Homo sapiens: one gene and its partners. The protein of the gene in region 2 purifies or fractionates together with the protein of the main gene of each other region. This does not show direct contact. Each region holds a gene or a part of one and is shown on either strand. Other genes may lie near its edges.

Region 1 (7,040 bases), on a different chromosome or scaffold from region 2:
ACTAAAAAGTTTTAGATACCATAATCTTTTTCCATTAGTACTGAAAATGTTCAGCACTCATTATTACATTCAGCAGGCTGTAACAGTGTAATAGTGGGATATACTCTGGATTGGGCACAAAAAGATCTGGAATCTAACCCCTGTTATGCATTTCCTAATGCCCTGTTCTTGGACAAGTCACATATTCTCTGAACCTAAGTTTTGTCATCTGTATAGTGCAAATGATGACTGATTTACTTGACAAATTATGTGATTGTCACACATGAACAATTCTCAAAAATCTTTAAAGTTTTAAATTTAAACCATTAAACTGAACATTTTAAAGCAAAAACTGGATATTTAAAAAAAAATTCCATTCTATACATTTTAGTAGAAGGACTTAGTAGAGGGTTAGATCAAAGAGTCCTTATGTTTTTTATGGACTACAAGTTGTTGCAATGACAAGGTATTTGATAAGAATTCTCAAATATTTATAATAATGATTTGTTCACCTTTGCCTTAATATTAAACATCTCTAAGAAGATATTTCTTATAATAAATCAGACTCAAGGAAAATGAAGCAAATAATCTTTTTTTTTCAGTATGGCAAATTTAATTCCAAAAGGCAGAATAGACACCATAATAACCTATTTCATTCATTCATTCATTTATTCTTTAATAAACACGGAACCTCTACCATGGGAGTATACAGGAAGAATGATAAATAGAAATAAGTGGATCATAAGAGTATAGTCTCTGATTTCAAGAAACTTACAGACTTCAGAATTCTGAGTTCACAAGTCTGGGAAAGTCATCAAAGCTAAATAGTTTTATTTTTACTTGCAAATGAATTTGGAAATCAAAAGTATTAAATTGTAAAGCTTAAGTTCCCTATGAATAGAAAAGTGTTCAATAAGTACTCCTTCTAACATTAATCCACTCATTTTTTAACAATGGTGACCTGTGTTATAATTAAGCTAGGAACCTAACAATCCAAGTGTCCTCTCTGATACTTCAGCTACGAATGAGCACTGGTAGTCATTATTTCTTTTGAAAGGCATTCATTTTTAAGATTTTATATTCTGATTTTCACATAGAAGTATCTATTTAGTTCCGTCTTGAGGAGCTATTGTCATTTGATTAGAAATTGGCAACTATAAAAACTCCTACAATTAGAATAATTTACTTACATTGTAGTAGCTTTAAAGATAGTCACAGGAAATATAACTCATTATCATATTGGAGCCTCTGTACACGTTAGATGTAAGAGTGGGGATGGGGTTATCACACACTTTTAAGAATAACTATTTTATTGGACTTTTACTACATATAGACACATTTTAGGACGGATTTCATCTATGGCAAACTACATTTTTGAAATATTAATTGTGTTCAGTCCCAAATGAGCTGTTGCAGAATTAGTTTGCCTGATGGACAACTTTACATACTTTTGGCATGCAATACTTCTCTAATTGGGAGATGGCCTTTCTTTTGAACATTTTAATTTTTTCCATTTTTTATATCCCCAATTTTCTAAAATATAGATTCATTTATTAGTCACCAACAACGCCTTGACATTATGAGCTTCTTGACATAAAACTCTTGAAAAAACTATAGTTTAAATGTCCTAGACTAGGTTAAGTGAGTGAGGTACCTGAGATGCAAAATTTAAGGAGGCTGTCACTGTTAGTGTCATGGTGTATCTCTTTGAGAGTTAGGCCCTAAGCACATCACTCAGTACCCTAGTCCCAGCTTTGGGTCAGAAGCTAAGCATTCTGGCTGTAGAACTGCCCAAGGGACTAGTACTAATCTTGACCTGTGCTTTCCTCTCCCTCATTCCAATTTGCTCATGTCTAGCCAGACTTTCTGACGATCTAGAGGTGACATTAGGTCTTATTGCTATGGAAATGGAGACTATTCCTCTGCCTTTACATCTGTATTAGACTTTCTTCATATTTCCAACCTGTTCCAAAAATTGAGGGGTGCTGTAGAAAGTTTTCAGTATCTCTTAGGCAATGGGCATGCTAGAATTCACTTCAAGCCTTCAGGAGGAGTTTGGTATGCTACGCTGACTGCCCTTGATGGGATTTGTATTTCCTGGGGCATTTGCAATGACGGAGGCCCGAAAAAAGCTGCGCGGGCCAAGGTCAAAGTTTGTGTTAGGCTCCTTAGCCCTAGGGATCTTTAGCTTCCATTTGATTTTCTTCATGTGATCTAAATGAGTTGAACTTATAAAAATATTTTCAAGGCTACTCTGTTTGCTTTTTATTTTTTTCAACTTGTTAAATGCTATACATTGATCTTTTAAATTTCATAGGGAGGTAACTGACTAATTTGAAGTTCTCATAAATGAATCAATAGGGTTGCTACATTATGAAAGAATTTTACTAAGTTTCTTCTATAATGCAGACTGAAATATAAGACCATTTTAATTTATCACCACCATACAGTAAAAATTAGCTTATGATATGTAGGTTCCTCCAGGATTCTGAACAACTTGCCACATAGCAGATGCTCAGTAAGGCATATTAATAAACCTACACTTTATGAACATACTTTGTAATGAAATTTTTATAAATGCTGTATTTTATTTACAATGAGAAACCTTATTAGAATAAAAATGATTCATAAATCTTAATCTTTTGTTTATAAATGTTCAAACATAAAAGTACTTAAGTAAATTAACCTTTTGATTTTGTCCCCTTAACATTGGCTTATGTTTAACCAAAGACCGATGACTTAATATTAACTTGGAATGTTGTAAGATTATTAACTGAGAATGTGGTAAGGCCTAATTGATTACTGCTGTTACAGTGCTTCAGAATTTTGAAGTGTTAGGCCTTGTAACTGCAGAGAAGTCTCATGAAATATTTCAAAGACAAATTGTGCTGAAATTCTAAATTTCAAAAATCCATATCTTAATAGTGTAATTCCAAGAATAAAAGAATAAGATTTCATTTACTTGATTTTAACTTTTTACCATATTATCTACACAATAATTACCTGAAATAAATTCTGGCTTTAGGCTTTCTACTTTTCAGTGCTTAGTTCAGATTTATTTTTTAAGAGGATGAGTACTGAGGCGAACTAATAGCTTAGAAACATCAGGTAAGCCAGAAAGCACGTATGTTATATAGCCTTAGGCCTTGGTGAAAATGGAAAAAAAACATGTGGGGCCTCTACTTTTTCTGAAGTGCAAATAGTTTACGTAGATAAATGATTCAACAGCAATACCATAATCCCAGAGTAAATTATTTTCATTTTTACTACTAGCTCAAGGGAATTACTGACTTTTAAATGGTGTTTTTTTTTTTTTTTCAAACCTTTTATGGAATCTATTGCTGAATTAGCTTAAGGCTTTACAGGCAGAACATTTTAGTGGTGGAGTCTCATATCTAGGAGAAGAAACATTTCTGTTCCTCCCATTTCACAGATATGTAAGTGCTGAAGTTAAAACAAGGACACATGGATGCCTGTTTTTGTACGTAAAACAAAATATACATTAGCAAATTTGGTTAGAATTTTAATTAGGCTTCAAACAACAGATGGATCTTTTTAATTTGAAGTTTTGTTATTGTACTTATATACCCGATGCCATAGTTGTGTTTAACCTGGCTTCAGAATGTTCTAAGTCATTTCTTCTGCTGTTATTTTATTGCTTACTCAAGGGCTCATTTACATACTGAATGTTATGGCAATACGACACAAATTTGATTTTTCCTTTTCTTTTTTTGAGAATAGGTTGTTTAAATCAAAGCATAAGGAAGGATTCTTGCTTTATATGGCTGTCAACAATTATATAAATAGGACATTTTAGGGCAATGCTGTTTACAGTTGACGTATTTCTTCCATTTCAACCTAAATATTGTCATGTGTTTGTAACAAAACATGCTGTTTTTCAGTTTCAATGTGTTTCTTCCTCTTATAGTCCTGTAAGCTCCACATATACAAAAGCCTAATGCAATTTTAGGCTGCAAGAAAAGTCTCATTTTGACTTGTTTTCCATCTTGATATAAAAGACCCGAAGAAAACTGGTTCGAAGTAAAGGATCGATGTCCTTAGAATTAGTTCAGAATGCTGATGGGTTGTGAAACAATACATGAGCAATGAGTAGATGATTTTTAATAACATAATACTGAATGCAAAGGAGAACCTAACAATAATGATAAACACTAGGCTGCTTCAAAAACTTTTATAGATTAAATTACAAATTATGTTTGAATTTTGACTGTTACTTCCTAAGACTAAGCCCTCTCAATCAGTTTAGCATAGCACCAGGGACAGATGCTCAAACCTTTTTCAAGGGGAATGTAGCTGTGTGACTCTCATTAATAGCTGTTGCATTATTCTGATTCTGGAAAACACTTTGAAACATCTACCCTTTTAAACTGAATCTCAGACTGAGTATTAAAGGGTAAAATTGCAGTCACTTATTTGTGGTCCCATAAAGTTTATGAATCATCTTACTAAGAAATGAAAATATATCCATAAATGTAGGCTTACAATGAATTTTAATTGTGAGGAAAATTTAAAACCCCTAAAAGAGATGAGATTTTTAGAGAAATTTCAGAGCTTGCAGTATTCTATCTTGTAACATCATTAGAACATTGAAATATTGTTTGACAATGGTGAAACAATAATATCAACATCCACGGCAGACAAACCAAAACAATTGAGAGTTTATTGGAATTTCTACTTATATGTAACCCCCCCTCACAAAAATGTATTTTCATTAAAAATTACTTATAACCTGTGAAAGAAATCTCAGACTTTACAAATATTAAGAATTGCAACATTAAATTTAGTTAACAATGATTTTTTTTTTTTTGAGATGGAGTCTCGCTCTGTCGCCCAGGCTGGAGTGCAGTGCTGCGATCTCGGCTCACTGCAAGGTCCGCCTCCGGGGTTCACGCCATTCTCCTGCCTCAGCCTCCCGAGTAGCTGGGACTACAGGTGCCTGCCACCACGCCTGGCTAATTTTTTTGTATTTTTAGTAGAGACGGGGTTTCACCGTGTTAGCCAGGATGGTCTCGATCTCCTGACCTTGTGATCCGCCCGCCTCGGCCTCCCAAAGTGCTGGGATTACAGGCGTGAGCCACCGCGCCCGGCCTAGAATGCTCATTTTAAAAGTAATATAGGAATGGGGGCCGGACTTGGTGGCTCACACCTGTAATTCCAGCACTTTGGAAAGCCAAAGCAGGCAGATCTCTTGAGGTCAGGAGTTTGAGACCAGCATGGCCAACATGGTGAAACCCCATCTCTACTAAAAATACAAAATTAGCTGGGTGTGGTGGCGCAAAGTGCCTGTAATCTCAGCTACTCGGGAGGCTGAAACAGGAGAATTGCTTGAACCTAGGAGGCAGAGGTTGCAGTGAGCCAAGATCATGCCACTGCACTCCAGCTTGGTCGACAGAGAGATTTCATCTCAAAAAATAAATAAATAAAAATAAAAATAAATAAATAAATAAAAAATAAAAGTAATATGAGAATGGAGATCATATAGCTATTTTTGTAATTCAGTTTAATTTAGAAATAGGAGTACTAAATAAAATTATAAAGTAAGATTAAACATGGAGCAATTACATATACATAGGAAAATTCCGTTTTAGTCCTTCTAAATATTGTGTGTGAAAAAATCTGCAGTCTTATGAATCTTCCTCCAATAAATTTTCTAACAAAGGAAACATTTAGTATTACTAGGCCGTAGAGACTAGTAATTTAATCTTTAATTTTTAAATTTATATGAAGTAACAAGAGAACACAATTTTTCACCGCTTATTTTATAACCTGATTGGCTCCCAGATTCACAATACGTGTAGGCTCCAGACTAAAAAATGCCAAACTGTTAGTGGAAAGTAACCTTAAGGCATTTTTCTTGATATCCATATTAGCTACAATCCTTGGCCTATTTCTTTGGAGTATGTTTACATGTTTTATGAATATAATTACATAGGTGGGAGAAGAAAAACATACAAACATAATTTCAAAAAGATGGAAATAATGTTAATAATTGCAGCCACAATTTAAACATATTGGTTCAAAAGTTTAAACGTATTTCTTTGTTTTATGAGATTCAAACAAAATCTCATAAAAACATGAGATTTTTAGAAAGTACAGAAAAATCTCTCTCTCTGTATGAATTTTATTTTAGGCAGTTGCATGCTAAACTTGTGCTTGGTTGTTCAAATAAAGTGAATGTTCACATGTGGACTCCACTCTTGAACATCAGGCAACTTGGAAGTAACATTAACTTTGGCATAAGGACTTTGACTGATCATTTGGTTTAAGTGCCTAGCATGACTTAGGTTCTCTGTAAACAAATGCTGAGATGATGTTTGGGGAGCATGCTCTCTATTAGGGATCAGCATCTGTGAAGCTTCAGGAAGTAGAACTGGACAGAGAACTAAACTGTAATGCAGTTTTGATAAAGCCTTGGCCAACGGGATAGGAAGCTGCTGCCCACCAGACTTTCCTGGATGTGGCCTGAACCTTTCTATCCAGGCCTAACTTAGACACTGGTCATGGGGTATTCCAAGAAAGTCATGGGGCAATGCAGCCCTCTACAGCTGAGATAGACCCTGAAAAATTTGACAGCAGGAGATGGTTTGCTGACCTCACTCCTCACAGCAGGGCAGCAAGTTTTTCCATTATTAATATGAATAATTATCTATGTTATCTAGAAATTGAATCCTCCATCACTGGGGAAAAGGGAGGGGGGACTGAGAGGTGGATCTCCTTATTCATCACAGCATCTAGGGTTCCAACAATCTTCAGTGCTTGAGAACTCAAGGGCCTAGGATCAGTGCAAATTGTTCTCGAAACCTGCTGATTCTCCTCAGATTATAATGACTCAGGTAATTCATGACTTGACATTTCACTTTGACAATTTACAGATTTATAGATAGGTAGTTCTTGGTTGACCTGGGCCTGTTGTGGCTTATCCATGGCAATTTTGAATTAAGGCTCTTATAAATAAATTTAAATAGAGTTCATGCTTAAATTTCTTTTAATCCTCACTTACGAAATTGGAAAGCAGAAATAAAAGTAAGCTTAGAAAAAGA
Region 2 (6,698 bases):
CTCCCCTAAAATACTCATAGATTGAGACCCACAGCATGCCTCAGCCTAGACTCTAAAGCCATTGCTATACAATACAATCACCACTAGCCACATTTAGCTATATAAATTTAAAGCTCGATTGAATCAAATTAAAACTTCGGGTCCGCATTCACACTGGGCACATTTCAAGTGCTCAGTAGCCACATGTGGCTAGTAGCTACCATATTGAACAACATAGACAGGAAATATTTCCATCATGGCAGAATGTTCTATTGGCAGTGCTGGTCTAGAAGAAAACAGGAATCAAGTAGATATAATGAATATTCTTTAATTCATGCCCTCTTGGACCAGCTATGGGTCAGCAGGCTAGGAGCTATTTGCAAGGTTTAGATTGTTACCACCTACTGGTCCATCCTGTTCTTCCTAACATGCACACCGGACACACACACACACACACACACACACACGCACACAACCTTTCTTCTTTATTTACTTGTTTCTAAATGTAACTAGGTGGAACTATCAGACAGAAACAGGGTGTTGCCAAGAATGATTTAATAGAACTGCAGGATCCCATGATGTTGAGACTCAAGGTTGGAAGAGAGGTGTCAGACTGCAGAAGTTGATTCCAGGCTTGTATTTGTGTCTGTTAATTTTGGTTTTACAGGTACATACTTGGGATCCACACAGCACTTAGCCTCAGTTTTGCATAATATATAGTATACTTCACTTTCTTTACATGTTGTTCTGCACCTGCCTGACTTGCCCCAACATTTCATGACTGAAAACAAAAGGGAAGAAGAGAATAGAGTCAGTTTTGAAAGAAAGCAGAAAGGTGTGAAAGGAAGAGGCTAAAGCCCAGTAGAGGAGTAGGAGGGAAATGAGGAGGTCTGTGGGGAAGAAGCTCTTACACAGGATCCCCTAAGTTTAAGGGAGATTATAGACCACTACGCTTTCTTCCTTCACTTGTGCCCCCTGTTAGAACCCCCAGAGTCCCCCCAACTCAGTGGCATAGGACCTACTGGATAGCTTCCCCTCCTTGGCCAGCTCCTTGGGAGGGGGAAGAGGACCCCTCTCCCAAGGGTTTTATCTCCCCCATATTATAATGTACCCAGGTGCCCAGTAGCAATTAGCCACCTTTTCTCATTGTTCTTTGGTACCCCCTCTGACCATATCAATGAAAGGTGACAGGAATATTAAATAAACTCATTTAACATCTGTAAGTCTTCTAGGGCACCTTTAAAACTCCCAAGAATATCATACTGCCTTCTTCACAACATCCTGGGACTTTTCTCTGGCCCCAACCAGTCAAGGGAATTAGGAACAGCTATTCCAGGGAACCTACAACCTAAGGTAACCCAGATGATTTGAGGTTGCATTAAAAAGTGGAATCAGAATCCTCAAACAATCAGAAATTTGAGAACCATTTTCCTAGAGGCAACAATGCATCAAAATTCAAATCCTTTCAATGAATGTTTTTGAAAAAGTCCCCATTTTCTCTATACTCCATACCCAAGTCTCTCTCTTTACACCCTATCCCATCCTCAGGTCATCACGTTCAGCTTTTCCAGAGCTAACCAGAGATAAGGTTGGAATGGTCAAGTACTGGGCACTGGGAAGACCATTTGGTACCAGAGAACTCAAACTTCCCCATAACTAGAGAGACTACCTAAAGGCCTCAATGAGCTCTACCAGGCCATTCTCCCAGCCCAACCTGTCAGAGTCCCCAGAGTTCTCTGAACATGCATCAGGTTTCCTGACTCCCATCCCCTTCTGGAGATCCTGTTTACCTGGGGTGACCTGGGCCAGGAGCAGAGTAACAGTCAAAAGCAGAAGAAGGAGCTTCATGAATGATGAATGATCAGGGAGGGATAGGAGGCTTCTCAACTGGTAAAACAGACAGAGGACTCCATTCTGGGCAGTCCAGACTGGTATTTATTGCCTTGAGGAGCATGGCAGAGCCAAGATCAGTGAACCAGAACGGGAACAGTCATTTGAGATCAGACAGGCAGGCAAGGAAGGTATCAACCACACTGCCTGAGGAGGCTGGGAGAGGGGGAAGGGACGTTAACAAAGAGAAGATACGGCCTTGCCTCTGAAGAATTTTATAATACAGCTGGAGAACCAAGAAGGGGAAAAATATTTTCATCTCTAATTTGTTTTTCATTAATGAGAAAAAAAGAGAGAGAAAAAGAGATAAGACAGAAAAGGAGTGATACTTCTCTGCGCCTTGGGTTCTTCCCAGCAACAAGGACATCTTAGGATGTCCCATATGTTGATGATTCATTATAATACCAAATGAAGGGCAGAGCAGGGGAAAATACCTTAATAGCTCCATGGCCATCACCACTGGAAACCAGAATGTCAGTATTCATGGAGTGGAATGAGCAGGAAAGCCATAGCCCTTACTTTTAACAGTACATATTTAATAGGAACAAGTAGCACCCTCATAGGTAGCAAAAGAAAAGCCATTTATTATTGTTGTGGTCTTTTTTTTATTATTACTTATTTTTTTGAGACAGTCTTGTTCTGTCACCCAGGCTGGAGTGCAGTGGCACAATCATAGCTCACTGGAACCTCGAATTCCTGGTCTCAAGCAATTCTCCTGCTTTGGCCTCCCAAAGTGCTAGGATTAAAGGCATGAGCCATCATGCCCAGCTTGGTCTTTCTTATAAGAAATGGTAGATTGCCCCAGCAACTTGGGAGGCCGAGGCAGGCGGATCACAAGTTCAGGAGATCGAGACCATCCTGGCTAACTCAGTGAAACCCCGTCTCTACAAAAAAAAATACAAAAAATTAGCCGGGCGTGGTGGCTGGCCACTGTAGTCCCAGCTATTCAGGAGGCTGAAGCAGGAGACTAGCTTGAATCCGGGAGGCGGAGGTTGCAGTGAGCCGAGATTGTGCCACTGCACTCCAGCCTGGGCAACAGAGCGAGACTCTGTCTCAAAAAAGAAAGAAAGAAATGGTAGATTGTAATCTTGGCCCTACTTCTTCATCCCTACTTGAATTCACACATTTGCCAAGGTCTCATCCTAGGAGAACTCTATTTCATTTTCCCTTCACTTTGGCCTTGGCATGTGATTTGCTTTGGCTAGTGATATGTGGGCAGAAGTGACGGTGTGCCGGTTGTAAGCCTAGGTTTTAAGAGATGATGAATATTTTCATTTGCCCTTCTGTGTCTCTGCCATCACTATGAGAAGAACATGCCCCAGTGGTCCAAGGAGGATGAGAGATACGTGGGGCACAGCTACTCCAGGCGACTCACAGATCTACAGTGAGAAACAGAGCTGCCCCAGGCATTCCAGCCTCAAGCAGGGCAATCTAGCCAAATATAAAGGATTGATGTTTTAAGCCACTGAGTTTTGGAGTGGAACATTACATAGTAATGGCTAACTTATACACAAGGCCAGCAGATAGATCAGGAAAGAGCCAAGTGCTTTTTAGGACAATAATGGTAAGGTCTATCTTTCTTTTCTTTTTCTTTTTTCTTTAAGACAGAGTCTTGCTCTGTTGCCCAGGCTGGAGTGCCGTGGCACCATCTCAGCTCATTGCAACCTCTGCCCCCCGGGTTCAAGCAGTTCTCCTGCCTTAGCCCCCCGAGTAGCTAGGACTACAGGCACGCGCCACCACACCCAGCTAATTTTTGTATTTTTGGTAGAGACGAGGTTTCACCATGTTGGCCATGGCTTGTCTCAAACTCCTGACCTCAGGTGATCCACCCGCCTCAGCCTCCCAAAGTGCTGGGATTACAGGCGTGAGCCACTGCACCTGGCCTAGGTCTATCATTTCAAAATGGACAGAAATAAAGACATACTAATAAGAGGAATATCTTCTTTCTAACATGGAAGAAAACAACAAGCCAGGAGCAGAGGCTCCTGCCTGTAATCCCCACAATTCGGGAGGCTAAGGCAGGAGGATTGCTTGAAGCCAAGAGTTTGAAACCAGCCTCAGCAACATAACGAGACTCCATCTCTACACACACACAAAAAAAGTTTTAAATAGCCGGGCATGGTGGGGCAAAGCTGTAGTCCTACCTACTAGGGAGGCTGAGGCAGGAAAATCATTTGAGCCCAGGAGGTCGAAGCTACAATGAGCTAAAATTGCACCACTGCACTCCAGCCAGCTCAACAGAGACCCTGTCTCCAAAAACAAAAAAAAGACAAGATAAATTTTCTTGTTGTCTGAAGAAAAATTAATGCTCCGGAGGTCACTTTTTCTATAAAGCCCAGATGGTAAATACTTTAGGATTTGCCAGCCACAACTATCACAACTACTCAACTCTACAGCTATAGGACAAAATTACCCACAGACAATATATAAGCAAATGAGTGTGGCTGTATTCCAATAAAACTTATTTATAGACACTCAAGTTTAAATTTTGTATAATTTTCACATCTCTAAATGAAATTTGATTGTTTTCAACGATTTAAAAATGTACTGGCTGGGCATGGTGGCTCACGCCTGTAATTCCAGCACTTTGGGAGACTGAGACAGGTGAATCACCTGAAGCCAGGAATTCGAGACCAGCCTGGCCAACATGGTGAAACCTCGTCTCTACTAAAAATACAAAAATTAGCCATGTGGGGTGGTGAGCAACTGTAACCCCAGCTACTCGGGAGGTTGAGGCAGGAGAATTGTTTGAACCTGGGAGGCAGAGGTTGCAGTGAGCCGAGATGGTGCCATTGCACTCCAGCCTGAACAACAGGAGTGAAACTACATCTCAAAAAAAAAAAATGTACCAAGGCAAACAGATCACTTGAGGCCAGGAGTTTGAGACCAGCCTGGATGACATAGCAAGGTCCCTTCTCTATTTTAAAAAAACTTGTTAAAAAAATAAAATAAACAAAATTATTGCTGATTTTCTTGGTATCTCCACTTTGGAAAAACAGTTTAACAGTTTCTTATAAAGTTAAACATAAACTTATCATACAACCAAACAACTCCTCTCTTTGGTATTTATCAAAGATAAATGAAGACATATGTCCACGTCAAAACTTGAATTGTCATAGTAACTTTATTCACCATAAGTGAAAACAACCCAAAAGTCCATTAATTAGTAAACAGATAAATTCTGATATCTCCATGTAATAGAATACTATTCAGCAACAAAGAATTAACCACTGCTATGCAACATACGGATGAACCTAAAGAGCAAGCTGGGTGTGGTGGTTCACGCCTGTAATCCCAGCACTTTGAGAGGCCAAGGTGGGTGGATCATCTGAGGTCAGGAGTTCGAGACTAGCCTGGCCAACATGGTGAAACCCTGTCTCTACCAAAAATAACAAAATTAGCCAGACATGGTGGCGGGTGCCTGTAATCCCAGCTACTTGGTAGGCTGAGGCAGGAGAATTGCTTGAACCCGGGAGGCGGAGGTTGCAGTGAACCTGAGCCAAGATCATGCCACTGCACTCCAGCCTGGACAACAAGAGCGAAACACTGTCTCAAAAGAATAATAATAAAAATAATAATAAACATTTTTTAAAAGCATTAGCCTGAGTGGAAAAATCCAGACCAAAGAAGAACATACTGAACAAGCTTATTCACATGAAACTCTAGAAAACACAAACCTAATCTACAGTGACAAAAAACAGATCAGTGGTTGCCTGGGGCTGATGGGAGGAAGTGGGCATTGACTGAGATGGGGCATGAGGGAACTTTCAGAGTGATGAAAATGTTCTATATGCAGATGTCAAAATTCATCAAAATTTACACATTATGTTTTATATAAATTATACCTCAAAAAAGTTGACTTTAAAAAAAACCTGTGCAAATAGTTTTTAAAATAAGCAACAGAATCCGATAAATAACATAAAACCACTTAAAATATATACACATTTAATGTGGTACACATATACCATGGAATACTATGCAGCCATCAAAAAGAAGGAAATCACATCCTTTGCAGCAACATGGATGCAGCTGGAGGTCATTATCCTAAGCCAACTGATGCAGAAACAGAAAACCAAATACCACATGTCCTCACTTACAAGTTGGAGACAAACCTTGGGTACATGTGAACATAAAGAGGGGAACCATAGACACTGGGGACTACTAGAGTCAGGAGAGAGGGAGGGAGGCAAGGGCTGAAAAACTACCTATTATATACTATGCTCACTACCTGGGTGACAAGATACATCATAGGAGTTAAACATCATAGGAGTTGCCTATGTGAGAGATGGATAGGAGTTGATTATGGGGATAAAAGTTAATAAATCAGTAAAATAAAATAAGAGAAGGGCTTTGTATAAGGCCAATGACAATAAATCTGCCATAAATACATAACCCTCTGCAACAGAGGACTAAAATAAAGTGCTATATTGACAAGGGGCTTACTTCTAAAGATCATTAGTAAGGTATCAGCCCCGTGGACTGGAACCCATTTCCTCTCCTTCCAGAAGGGACTGCAGAGAGGAAACCTGAGATGCCATTCAAGCAAACGGCACAACTTCCTCCACTCTTGAGAAAGGGGATTGTTTCTGGTTAGAAGGGTAGGATACTGGGCTGAGAGCCTTGAAAAATGAGAGAGAGAGAGAGAGAGAGAGAGAGAGAGAAAGAGAGCAACTCATGGGAGCACCATCCTTGCAGAAGTCTTAGTCTAGAAGGTACTTTCTTTATGCATCCAAGGAACCCCCAGTGGCACAGAGTTTCATCTACACTGAATGGTTTTGAGATCTACTTCCCTTCTTTAAAGAACTCCATCATAGCCCTGCAAGTTTGCT
Region 3 (7,040 bases), on a different chromosome or scaffold from region 2:
CAAGCCATTCTGGTGCCTCAGCCTCCCAAGTAGGATTATAGGCATACACCACCACGCCCAGCTAATTTTTGTATTTTTAGTAGAGACGAGGTTTCACCACATTGGCCAGGCTGGCCTCAAGCTTTGGCCTCAAGTGATCCACCCACCTTGGCCTCCCAAAGTGCTGGAATTACAGACGTGAGCCACTGTGCCTGGACTAAATTTTTTAGGTATTTGAATTTTTAAAAATTAGAATAGAGTTTTAGAACAGGTAAGATTAACCTATTAACTGACCGTTGATTCAATCTTTTTGTGTTGTGTTGTGTTTTATATTTGTAAATGGAAAAACGAAATGACAAATAATTATGAAAGAGGCATCCATTTGAATTAAAGATCCTGAAGAAGAGAGAACTATTATCCGGAGTTAATCCTTTAATAGTTTTCAGGACATAGTGATAATATAGAGCTTCATTTTGGAATATAAGCATGAATTATCTCTCCAGGGAATTTTTATGTGGCTCATATATGTATGATTTATTTGAATATTCACTGTAGTTACATACTCTTATGGCATTTTGAACTTACATGATTAGAAGAAGAAAGTTAATTAAAAAAGAGAAAAGCATTTTTTTTCTTTTAATTTAGAAAGGTGTTACAGAAGATGGCTGGAACTGCATTTCTTGCCCTAGTGACTTAACTGCCGAAGGAAAATGTCACTGTCCCATTGGCCATATTTTAGGTAAGAATTAGATTCCTTATAAAGAAGTAGTGATAAATCTTCATTCTTGTTTTTGTTTTTATTTGAAAAGGGCACTAATTTAAATAGTTAAGTGATTACTTAATATTTTTGCAGTGGCTCAAGCAATTCTCCTGCCTCAGCTTCCTGAGTAGCTGGGACTGCACACATAACACCACTGCAGCTGGCTAATTTTTAAATTTTTTGTAGAGACTGGGTCTCGTTATGTTGCTCAGCCTGGTCTTGAACTCCTGGCCTCGAGAGATCTTCCTGCCTCAGCCTCCTAAAGTGCTGGGATTATAGGCATCAGTCACTGTGTCCAGCCCTTAATAGTGTTTATAAAAATTATTTTTGTACAAATTAATGATACTTAAAACATCAGCAGGCATTGAGAAGAAAATACAAAGTTTTGTCTGAGTTTTTTAAAACTCTTAATATTGTAGGATTAGATGGTTATTTCCTTAACATAACATGACAAAATATGTCTCAACTCAAAAGCCAACTTGATACTTAATAGGGAAAAAGCGTAAGCATTCCTGTTAATGTCAGGACCTGGAAAAGGATGCAAACTATGCACTTAAGTAAGAGAAAAAAAATATTTATCATTGGAAAAGAAAAGGTAGGCCGTTGTTAATCCTAGCACTTTGGAAGGCTAAGGCAGGTGTATTGCTTGAGCTCAAGAGTTTGAGACCAGTCTGGGCAACATGGTGAAACCGCATCTCTACAAATAAAAAAAAAAATTATTTGGTTACGGTGGCATGCACCTGTAGTCCCAGCTACTCGAGAGGCAAAGGTGGGAAGATCGCTTGAGCCTGGAAGGTCAAGGCTACAGTGAGCTGAGATGGCGCCACTGCACTCCAGCCTGAGCGACAGGGTAAGACCCTGTCTCATGAAAAAAAAAAAAAAAAAAAGTAAAATATCATTGTTTACAGATGATTTGATTGTATGTTTAAAACACCCAACAGAATGACTAAAAATTATTATAAACAGTGATGGAAGAAAATACCTCATATACAGTAGCAACAAAAAAGAAAAAATAAGTAGGCATATCCTTTTTTTTAATTTTAATTTTTATTTTTGTTTTTTTTTTTTTGAGACAGAGTTTTCACTGTTGTTGCCCAGGCTAGAGTGCAATGGTGTGATCTTGGCTCACTGCAACCTCCCTCTCAGGTTCAAGCGATTCTCCTGCCTCAGCCTCCCGAGTAGTTGGGATTATAGGCATGTGCCACCACACCTGGCTAATTTTATATTTTTAGTGGCTAACAGGGTTTCTCCATGTTGGTCAGGCTGGTCTTGAACTTCCGACCTCAGGTGATCTGCCTGCCTCAGCCTCCCAAAGTGCTGGGATACAGGCTTGAGCCACCGCACCTGACCTTGGCATGTACTTTAGAAGGAATGTACAACATAATTGAAGAAATTTGTGAGTATTACTGAGGGATATGAAGGCAGGCTTTTAAGTGAAAATGCATTCTTTATTTTTGGATGGGAAGATTAAATATTAGAAAGATGCAACTCTTCTACCAGTCTGTATATTTTAAAGGACCCTAATAAATTCTATCAGGATATTATTTGTTTGTTTTGGGGTAATATACAAATAGAGTCTGAAGTTTAACAGGAAAGTTATATGAAAAGCTAAGAAAATTCTGGGAAGGGAAAGAAGGAACTACCCCATCAGATAATATGCATGTTATATAGCTACTATAATCACATATATGACAGGCTTATGGATACACAGACTGATTGATGGAACTTAAAACAGGCAATCAGAATAGATTCAATTCATATAGGAATTTGGTATGTGAAAAAAGTGGCATTTCATATAAGTGGGGATAAAACTGATTAATGATGCTGGGAAAACTGAGAAAACACCCAGGTTGGGTTTCTACCTTATTTCTGAGAAAATTAAACTCCAAATGAGTCAAATACTAAATATGAATATATGAAAGTTCTTAAAGAAAATGCAGGAAAAATTTGTATAGTTTTGGTTTAACAGGCCTAAGTATGACCAAAAATACTCAGTCACTTTGGAGGCCTAGGTGGGACGATTACTTGAGCCATGGAGTTCCTGACCAGCCTGGGCAATATAGAGAGACTCTGTGTCTACAAAAAAAAAAGAAAAAAAGAAAAACCACAGAAGAAAAAATTGGTAAATTTATAAAATGCCATAAAAATTATAATACCAAAAACCAAACTACAAACTAAAGAAAAATATTAATGCATACAATAGACAGAGGTCGAAGTTCTTCAATAAATGTAAAGCTCCTACAGATAAATAAAAGTAAGATGAATAACCCAATTTTTAAAATAGCCAAGAGTCATAAATAAAGTTCACATAGAAAAAAATATTTTAACGTGAGAAAAAAATGTTCAACTTTACTCAGAGTAAGAAAATGTACGTTAAAGCTAAAATGAGATTTTATTTTTAACCTACCAGATTTTATTATAAAATTTTTTCGACCGGGCACAGTGGCTCACGCTTGTAATCCAGCACTTTGGGAGGCCGAGGCAGGTGGATCACCTGAGTTCAGGAGTTCAAGACCAGCCTGACGAATGTAGTCGCTATTAAAAACTCAAAATTAGCCTGGCATGGTGGCACATGCCTGTAATCCCAGTTTCTTGGAGGCTGAGGCAGGAGAATTGCTTGAACCCAAGGAGGTGGAGGTTACAGTGAGCCAAGATCACGCCATTGCACTCCAGCCTGGGCAACAAGAGTGAAACTCCATCTCAAAATAAAAAAGAAACTTTTTCAACTTTGACAATGTATTTATAAGGATACAGGGAAATAGTTATTCGTGTATTAATGGGAAAAATTTTAAGTTGGTGCAACCTCTGTGGAAAGCAAATTTATGGTGTTTATCAAAATTAAAAATACAGATTATCTTTGCCTGGAAAGCTCTCATCTAGAAATTTCTCATTTGGATACACTTAACTGTATGCCTGAAGAAGTGTTGAATGTTTTTTTCTTGCAACATTATTCCTAAGACAAAAGATTATAAACAAAATAAGATTCTATCAAGATGAGATCAATCAATTAAATTATGATATAGTCATACAATGGTATAGAATGCAATTGTGGAAAAATAAAGAGGCAGTTCTACACATAGTGCTATGGAAAGAAATCTAAGATATATTGAGTAAAAAAGCAAGATTTGGAATAATTTATTCATTCATCTACAAATGTTTATTGAGTACCTGCTATTTATCAGCACTATTTTATGTACTTGGTATTCCACTATTTAGCTTTTTAAAGACCATTATATATGCATATGTGCTTGTATATGCACAGGTTATTTCTGAAAAGACTCATAAGAAACTGTTAACAATGCTGCCTCCTGAGTGAAGAACTGAGTGCCTGGGAATAGTGGGAAAGAGACTTAATTTTCATTTTAAATCTTTTTTTGCTTGGTGCAGTGTTTCACGCCTGTAATCGCAGCACTTTGGGAAGCCGAGGTGGGTGGATCACCTGAGGTTAGAAGTTCAAAACCACCCTGGCCAACATGGTGAAACCCTGTCTCTACTAAAAATAGAAAAATTAGCTGGGCATGGTGGCAGGTGCCTGTAGTCCCAGCTACTTGGGACACTGAGGCAGGAGAATCACTTGAATCTGGGAAGTGGAGGTTACAGTGAGTGAGATCACGCCACTGTGCTCCAGCCTGGATGACAAGAGCGAAACTCTCTCAAAAAATAAAATAAAATAAATCCTTTTGTGCCTTTTATTTTTATATTTCATATATTACCCAAAGATTAATTTTTTAATTATCTTTACCTTTTTTTTTTTTTACTTTTTAACAATTTTTTTTTTTGTGGTGATGGGGGTCTTACTATATATCTCAAGCTGGTCTTGAACTCCTGACCTCAAGCAGTCCTCCTGCCTTGACCTCTCAATGTGTTGGGATTACAGGTGTGAGCCACCATGCCTGGTCTTATTTTTTCAGAGACGTGGTCTTGTTATGTTACCCAGGCTGGATTCAAACTCCTGGGCTTAAGCAATCTACTGCACCCAGCTTCTTAGTAGTTTCATTGGCACTGTTGCCTCCATTGAAAATATTAACTTGATTCTCACGGTATTTGGGGGGTGTATTCTTAGGGATGGGACTAATGAAAGTTTTATGAGTTGGATGGCAATATGAAATTTATTACACTTCATGATGTACTAATTTTGGTGTGTGTGTCTCTGTGTGTGCACATTCAGAATTTTTTTTCCCTGTTTTATTATAAGGATCTACACTATATAGCCACAGGAAACATAAGTGGTATGTTTGCATAAATGTTTCATACACAAATATTGTTCTAGCATACTTTTTTCAGTTAACGGTATGCTCTGATGCTCTGTTAGATTTACCTGATTCTTTTTGTTTGTTTGTTTTTTGAAACAGGGTCTCACTCTTGCCCAGGCTGGAGTGTAGTGGTGTGATCTCAGCTCACTGCAACCTCCACCTACCAGGTTCAAGTGATTCTCATGCCTCAGACACTTGAGTAGCTGGGATTACAGGCACGTGCCACCACACCCAGCTAATTTTGTATTTTTTTTTTTTTAGTAGAGACAAGGTTTTGCCATATTGGCCAGGCTGGTCTTGAACTCCTGGCCTCATGTGATCCACCCACCTTAGCCTCCCAAAGGGCTGGGATTACAGGCATAAGCCTCCTCACCTGGCCTTACCTGATTCTTTTTAATATATTCCATAGTATTTTGTAGCATGGATATACCATCATTCTGCTATTTTAAATATTCGTGTTGTTTCTAACAAATAATGCCTCAGTGAATATCCTTATATACATGTTCAAGTGTTTCTGTAAGTTAGGTATCTAAAAACAAAATTGTGGTGTTATAAGGATGTGAATTTGAAACTTTAATAGATACTACTAAAAGCCTTCTAAGTTGCAGAAACTTATCAGTAATCTATGAAAATACTTGCTTCCCCATCCTAGTGTGACAGAAATGTATAGATAAGAGGTAAGAAAATTTTTGAGGAAAAAAATACTGACTTAATTGTTACGATGACTTGGAAAATGATTTTCTATATTTTACTATGTGAGAATAGGGAAGGCATCACTTCTCTTTTTTTTTGGAGGCATGGACGGGTACGAAGGGATCACTTCTCTACACTTTATTATGGAGATACTTGTTATGCCTTTAATGCAAATAAAGTGTTTTGAGAATTAATAGAATAATAGTTACAATTGGGTTTTGTTAAATATTTTCTGAATATGTAGAAGCTTATATGTTTACTATGAGTTACATCTTTATTTTGTTTCTAAACTGTTCAGTGGAAAGAGACATTAATGGAACATTGTTGTCTCAAGCAACTTGTGAGCTCTGTGATGGAAATGAAAACTCTTTTATGGTAGTAAATGCTTTAGGAGACAGGTAAGCAGTGTGATGGGGGCTAACTTCATTAATATCATCTTATATTAGTGTATAATTTGTACTTTTAAGAGTGTTTTCCTATCATATCACTTAGTTTTCACAATAACCCAAGGAAGGATAGAAGTAGACATTAACAGATACAGAAGCTGAGGCCCAGAGCGTGAGACACACTAGGGTTCAAATTTTGGTCCAGTCTGTTAGTTGTCTGACCTTGGATAGCTCACTACTTCACAATCCCTTGTCTTTAGAATGGTAATGTTACCACCCACTTCATAGGCTGTAATGGCTCAGAAATAATAAGTAATAAAGTAAATAGATACAGTTCTTAGTATAGTGCTACATAGTAACCACTCTGTACAGGGTAGCTATTTTTGTTTGTTGTTACATAATTTGTATATAATCTGTAATATAATTATGTGCTAAGTACTGTACTAAAGCCCTTATGTATTATAATGTTACATAGAAAAACATAAATGTATGCTAATAATAGCCCAGGTACCCTGATTTATAGTCCCATTTTCTGTTGCTTCCTGTTCCCCCTTTGTGCATGTATTTGTGAAACACACACACACACACACACACACCCCTGCCTGCCTATATACTTCCCTCTAATTTAAGCACATTATACCAATTTCAGCATCTTTAATTTATTAGAGGCCTACATCATGACTTCCCTCCGGGCACAGTTTTTTCTTTAGTTTCCAAGTTTAATATGGAAAATAGTTGAGCAGCTTTTCTGAGGGCTACTTAGTGTTGGATCATCTTTTCTCTAAGGCTGACCTGAGTTATGGCATCCAAATACCAATTTTTTTTGCCCAATATTTCCCCAAGCCTAGTGTGTTTTATGTCATGCCCCAGCCCGACTCCTACCTGCTCTATTTTGCAAGTGATGAATACCCATATATTCACTCATCACTGTCCTCATTGGACCAGTACCCTCCCTCCCTCTGTCTCATT
Region 4 (3,562 bases), on a different chromosome or scaffold from region 2:
TCCCGGGTTGAAGTGTCCTGCCTCAGCCTTCCGAGTAGCTGGGATTACAGGCATGCACCACCACACCTGGCTAATTTTGTAATTTTAGTAGAGACAGGGTTTCTCCATGTCGGTTAGGTTGGTCTGGAGCTCCCGACCTCAGGTGATCGGCCCGCCTCGGCCTCCCAGAGTTCTGGGATTATAGGCGTGAGCCACTGCGCCCAGCCCCACCAAAGTTTTATTTTATGCTTAACTACCCTAGGGATCAGGGGCTGGACAGTGGGAAGTACTATGTAAATCTTAATTTATCAGCTATCTTTGGGGGAATAGTCAAGCTAAGAAGATGGTTTTTTTTGCCAGGCACGGTGGCTCATGCCTGTAATCCCAGCACTCTGGGAGGCCGAGGCGGGCGGATCATGAGGTCAAGAGATTGAGACCATCCTGGCCAACATGCTGAAACCCCGTCTCTACTAAAAATACAAAAATTAGCCAGGTGTGGTGTTGGGTGCCTGTAATCCCAGCTACTCGGGAGGCTGAGGCAGGAGAATTGCTTGAACCTGGGAGGCAGAGGTTGCAGTGAGGCGAGATTGTGCCACTGTACTCCAGCCTGGAGACAGAGCGAGACTCTGTCTCAAAAAAAAAAAAAAAAATGCATCTTGTTTGTTTGTTTTGAGACGGAGTCTCACTCTGTCACCTAGGCTGGAGAGTGGTGGTGCCATCACGGCTCACTGCAACCTCTGCCTCCCAGGTTCAAGTAATTCTCCTGCCCCAGCCTCCCGAGTAGCTGGGACTACAGGTGCATGCCACCACGCTCGGCTAATTTTTGTATTTTTTAGTAGAGACAAGGTTTCACTATTTGGTCAGGCTGGTCTCCAACTCCTGACCTCAGGTGATCTGCCTGCTTTGGCCTCCCAAAGTGCTGGGATTACAGGCATGAGCCACTGGGCCTGGCCAAAAAATGCATCTTTAGATGATACAATTCATTCATTCAACAAATAGTTCTGAGCTCCTATTATGTGTCAGCTTCTGCACCTGAGGGGCTAGGGACAAAATGATGAATAAGACAGGCATGGTTTCTGCCTATTAACATCCAGTGGGGGCCACTCAATACTCAAATGAACAAATATGTAATAAAAAACTTTAGGCTGGGTGTGGTGGCTCACGCCTGTAATCCCAGCACTCTGGGAGGCCGAGGCGGGTGGATCACCTGAGGTCAGGAGTTCAAGACCAGCCTGGCCAACATGGTGAAACCCCATCTCTACTAAAAATACAAAAACTAGCCGGGCAAGGTGGCGGGCGCCTGTAGTCCCAGCTACTTGGGAGGCTGAGGCAGGAGAATTGCTTGAACCCAGAGGGCGGAGGTTGCAGTGAGCCAAGATTGTGCCACTGCACTCCAGCCTGGGCGAGAGGGCAAGACTCTGTCTCAAAAAAAAAGCACTTTATTTGGGAGATTCCAGGAAACATTAGTAGAGGCAGAGGAAATGAGAAAGGAGGGAAAATCATGTGGTATTGAGCGGAAAACTGCTGGATGACAGGGCTCAGTCCTGTTGGAGAACTCTGGGTGGTGCTGTAGAACAGGGCCACTCACAGTGGGGTGCACAGACCAGCACGGCTCTGTGACCTGTTTGTTACAGGTCCATGATGAGGTAAACAATACACTGAGTATAAGGGTTGGTTTAGAAACTCTTACAGCAATTTGACAAAGTAATCTTCTGTGCAGTGAATCTAAGAAAAAAATTGGGGCTGTATTTGTATGTTCCTTTTTTTCATTTCATGTTCTGAGTTACCTATTTTTATTGCATTTTACAAAAGCATCCTTCCATGAAGGACCGGAAGTTAAAAACAAAGCAGGTCCTTTATCACAGCACTGTCGTAGAACACAGTTCAGAGTTATCCACCCAAGGAGCCAGGGAGCTGGGCTAAACCAAAGAATTTTGCTTTTGGTTAATCATCAGGTACTTGAGTTGGAATTGTTTTAATCCCATCATTACCAGGCTGGAGGTGAGGTTAGTGGTGCAGGAGTTGCTGAGGCAGGTGGAAATCTTGTAATAAATGCCTAAAAATGTTTTAAGCAATTTGACTGGGCTCTGGAAAGCATTTTGTGATTCTGAACTAAAAGATGGACAAGTAAATTTTATCAATTAAGAACAAACACCCAGAGACTATTTCTCTTATCCAGAATTTATGACAAGGTCCTGTTGTTCTTATTATCAGTGATACTTATAATATGGTTTCTTGGGATGAGTAATGGAGTTTACTCCAAGAAACTCAAAGCATTTCATACATTATTTCTGTGATAAATCAGGAAATATGTGAATAATTATTTTATGAATATGTATTACCTAAAGTTCATTAGTTCACATTTTATTTTTGCATTCAGAAAATCTAATTCTTTACCCATCCTAACCTTTTAGCAAGCAATTTTGTAGTCACCCTCAGGCAAGCAATAGTGTAGCTATACTCTGGAAACCCTTCACTTCTTGAAGAAGGAAAAAGTCTTCCTGATTGAAAATTGGTGGCTGGGTGAGGTGGCTCACGCCTATGATCCCAGCACTTTTGGAGACCAACATGGGTGGATTGCTTGATCCCAGGAGTTCAAGAACAGCCTGGGCAACATAGTGAGACCTCATCTTTACAAAAAATAAACAAAATTAGCCTGGTATGGTGGCAGGCACCTGTGGTCCTAGCTACTCTGGAGGCTGAGGTAGAAGGATTGCCTGAGTGTAGGAGGTCGAGGCTGCAGTGAGCTGAGATCACACCACTGCACTCCAGCCTGGGTGATAGAGTGACACCCTGTCTCAAAAAAGAAAAAAAAAATTGGAAAGATCTGAGATGGTGTTAGTTTCAGTTGCCTGTGCTGCTCTCATTCCCTCTTTAGTACTAACATTCTGGATGTGTGTGTGTGTTGTATTTATTTTTTAGGACAGTTTATTCTGCGTTGTAGCAGCATTTGGCTGTTTCTACTACTGAATGAATCTTTGAAAAGCTGGTAAAAGACATGACCATGAAGAAATCTGAACTTTTTAATATTGTTAAATATCTTGACAAAATAAAGATGTTAGTAGTTTGACAACTGAATCTGTTGTGTTTTAGGCCTTATATTTTTAATGTTTTGATTTTGTTACACTATGTTCTGTTTCTTTCTTTCCTTCCTTCTTTCTTTCCTTCCTTCCTCTCTCTCTCTCTGTCTCTCTCTCTCTCTCCCTCTCTCTCTCTTTCTCTCTTTCTTTCTTTTTTTTTTTGAGACAGAGTCTCTCTCTGTCGCCCAGGCTGGAGTGCAGTGGCACAATCTCGGCCCACTGCAACCTCCGCCTCTTGGGTTCAAGTGATTCTTCTGCCTCAGCCTCCCAAGTAGCTGGGACTACAGGCAAGTGCCACCACGCTTGGCTAATTTTTGTATTTTTACTAGAGACGGGGTTTCACCATATTGGCCAGACTGGTCTCAAACTCCTGACCTCATGATCCATCCATTTCAGCCTCCCAAAGTGTTGGGATTACAGGTGTGAACTACTGCGCCCGGCCCTACTATATTCTTGTTACACTGGAACACAGAGAAAAAAGTAGGGGAAAAGCCATTTCAATT

Evidence for each region.
Region 1: the proteins of DEFB121 (region 2) and CPS1 purify together in Homo sapiens (affinity purification with mass spectrometry; 2 studies listed by BioGRID and IntAct, with this or other methods). This does not show direct contact.
Region 3: the proteins of DEFB121 (region 2) and TMEM67 purify together in Homo sapiens (affinity purification with mass spectrometry; 2 studies listed by BioGRID and IntAct, with this or other methods). This does not show direct contact.
Region 4: the proteins of DEFB121 (region 2) and DYNLT2B purify together in Homo sapiens (affinity purification with mass spectrometry; 2 studies listed by BioGRID and IntAct, with this or other methods). This does not show direct contact.

The regions. Positions count from the first base shown.
Region 1 is NC_000002.12:210,559,587-210,566,626, forward strand, and holds part of CPS1 (carbamoyl-phosphate synthase [ammonia], mitochondrial isoform b precursor), read left to right. Parts: intron 1-7,040. UniProt on the Homo sapiens protein: Involved in the urea cycle of ureotelic animals where the enzyme plays an important role in removing excess ammonia from the cell.
Region 2 is NC_000020.11:31,404,326-31,411,023, forward strand, and holds DEFB121 (beta-defensin 121 isoform 1 precursor), read right to left. Parts: upstream 1,891-6,698; 5' UTR 1,828-1,890; coding exon 1,770-1,827; intron 761-1,769; coding exon 588-760; 3' UTR 520-587; downstream 1-519. UniProt on the Homo sapiens protein: Has antibacterial activity.
Region 3 is NC_000008.11:93,757,859-93,764,898, forward strand, and holds part of TMEM67 (meckelin isoform 1 precursor), read left to right. Parts: intron 1-624; coding exon 625-718; intron 719-2,001; coding exon of another isoform or gene 2,002-2,135; intron 2,136-5,983; coding exon 5,984-6,083; intron 6,084-7,040. UniProt on the Homo sapiens protein: Required for ciliary structure and function. Part of the tectonic-like complex which is required for tissue-specific ciliogenesis and may regulate ciliary membrane composition.
Region 4 is NC_000003.12:196,290,714-196,294,275, reverse strand, and holds the end of DYNLT2B (dynein light chain Tctex-type protein 2B), read left to right. Parts: intron 1-2,901; coding exon 2,902-2,949; coding exon of another isoform or gene 2,950-2,972; 3' UTR 2,973-3,057; downstream 3,058-3,562. UniProt on the Homo sapiens protein: Acts as one of several non-catalytic accessory components of the cytoplasmic dynein 2 complex (dynein-2 complex), a motor protein complex that drives the movement of cargos along microtubules within cilia and flagella in concert with the intraflagellar transport (IFT) system.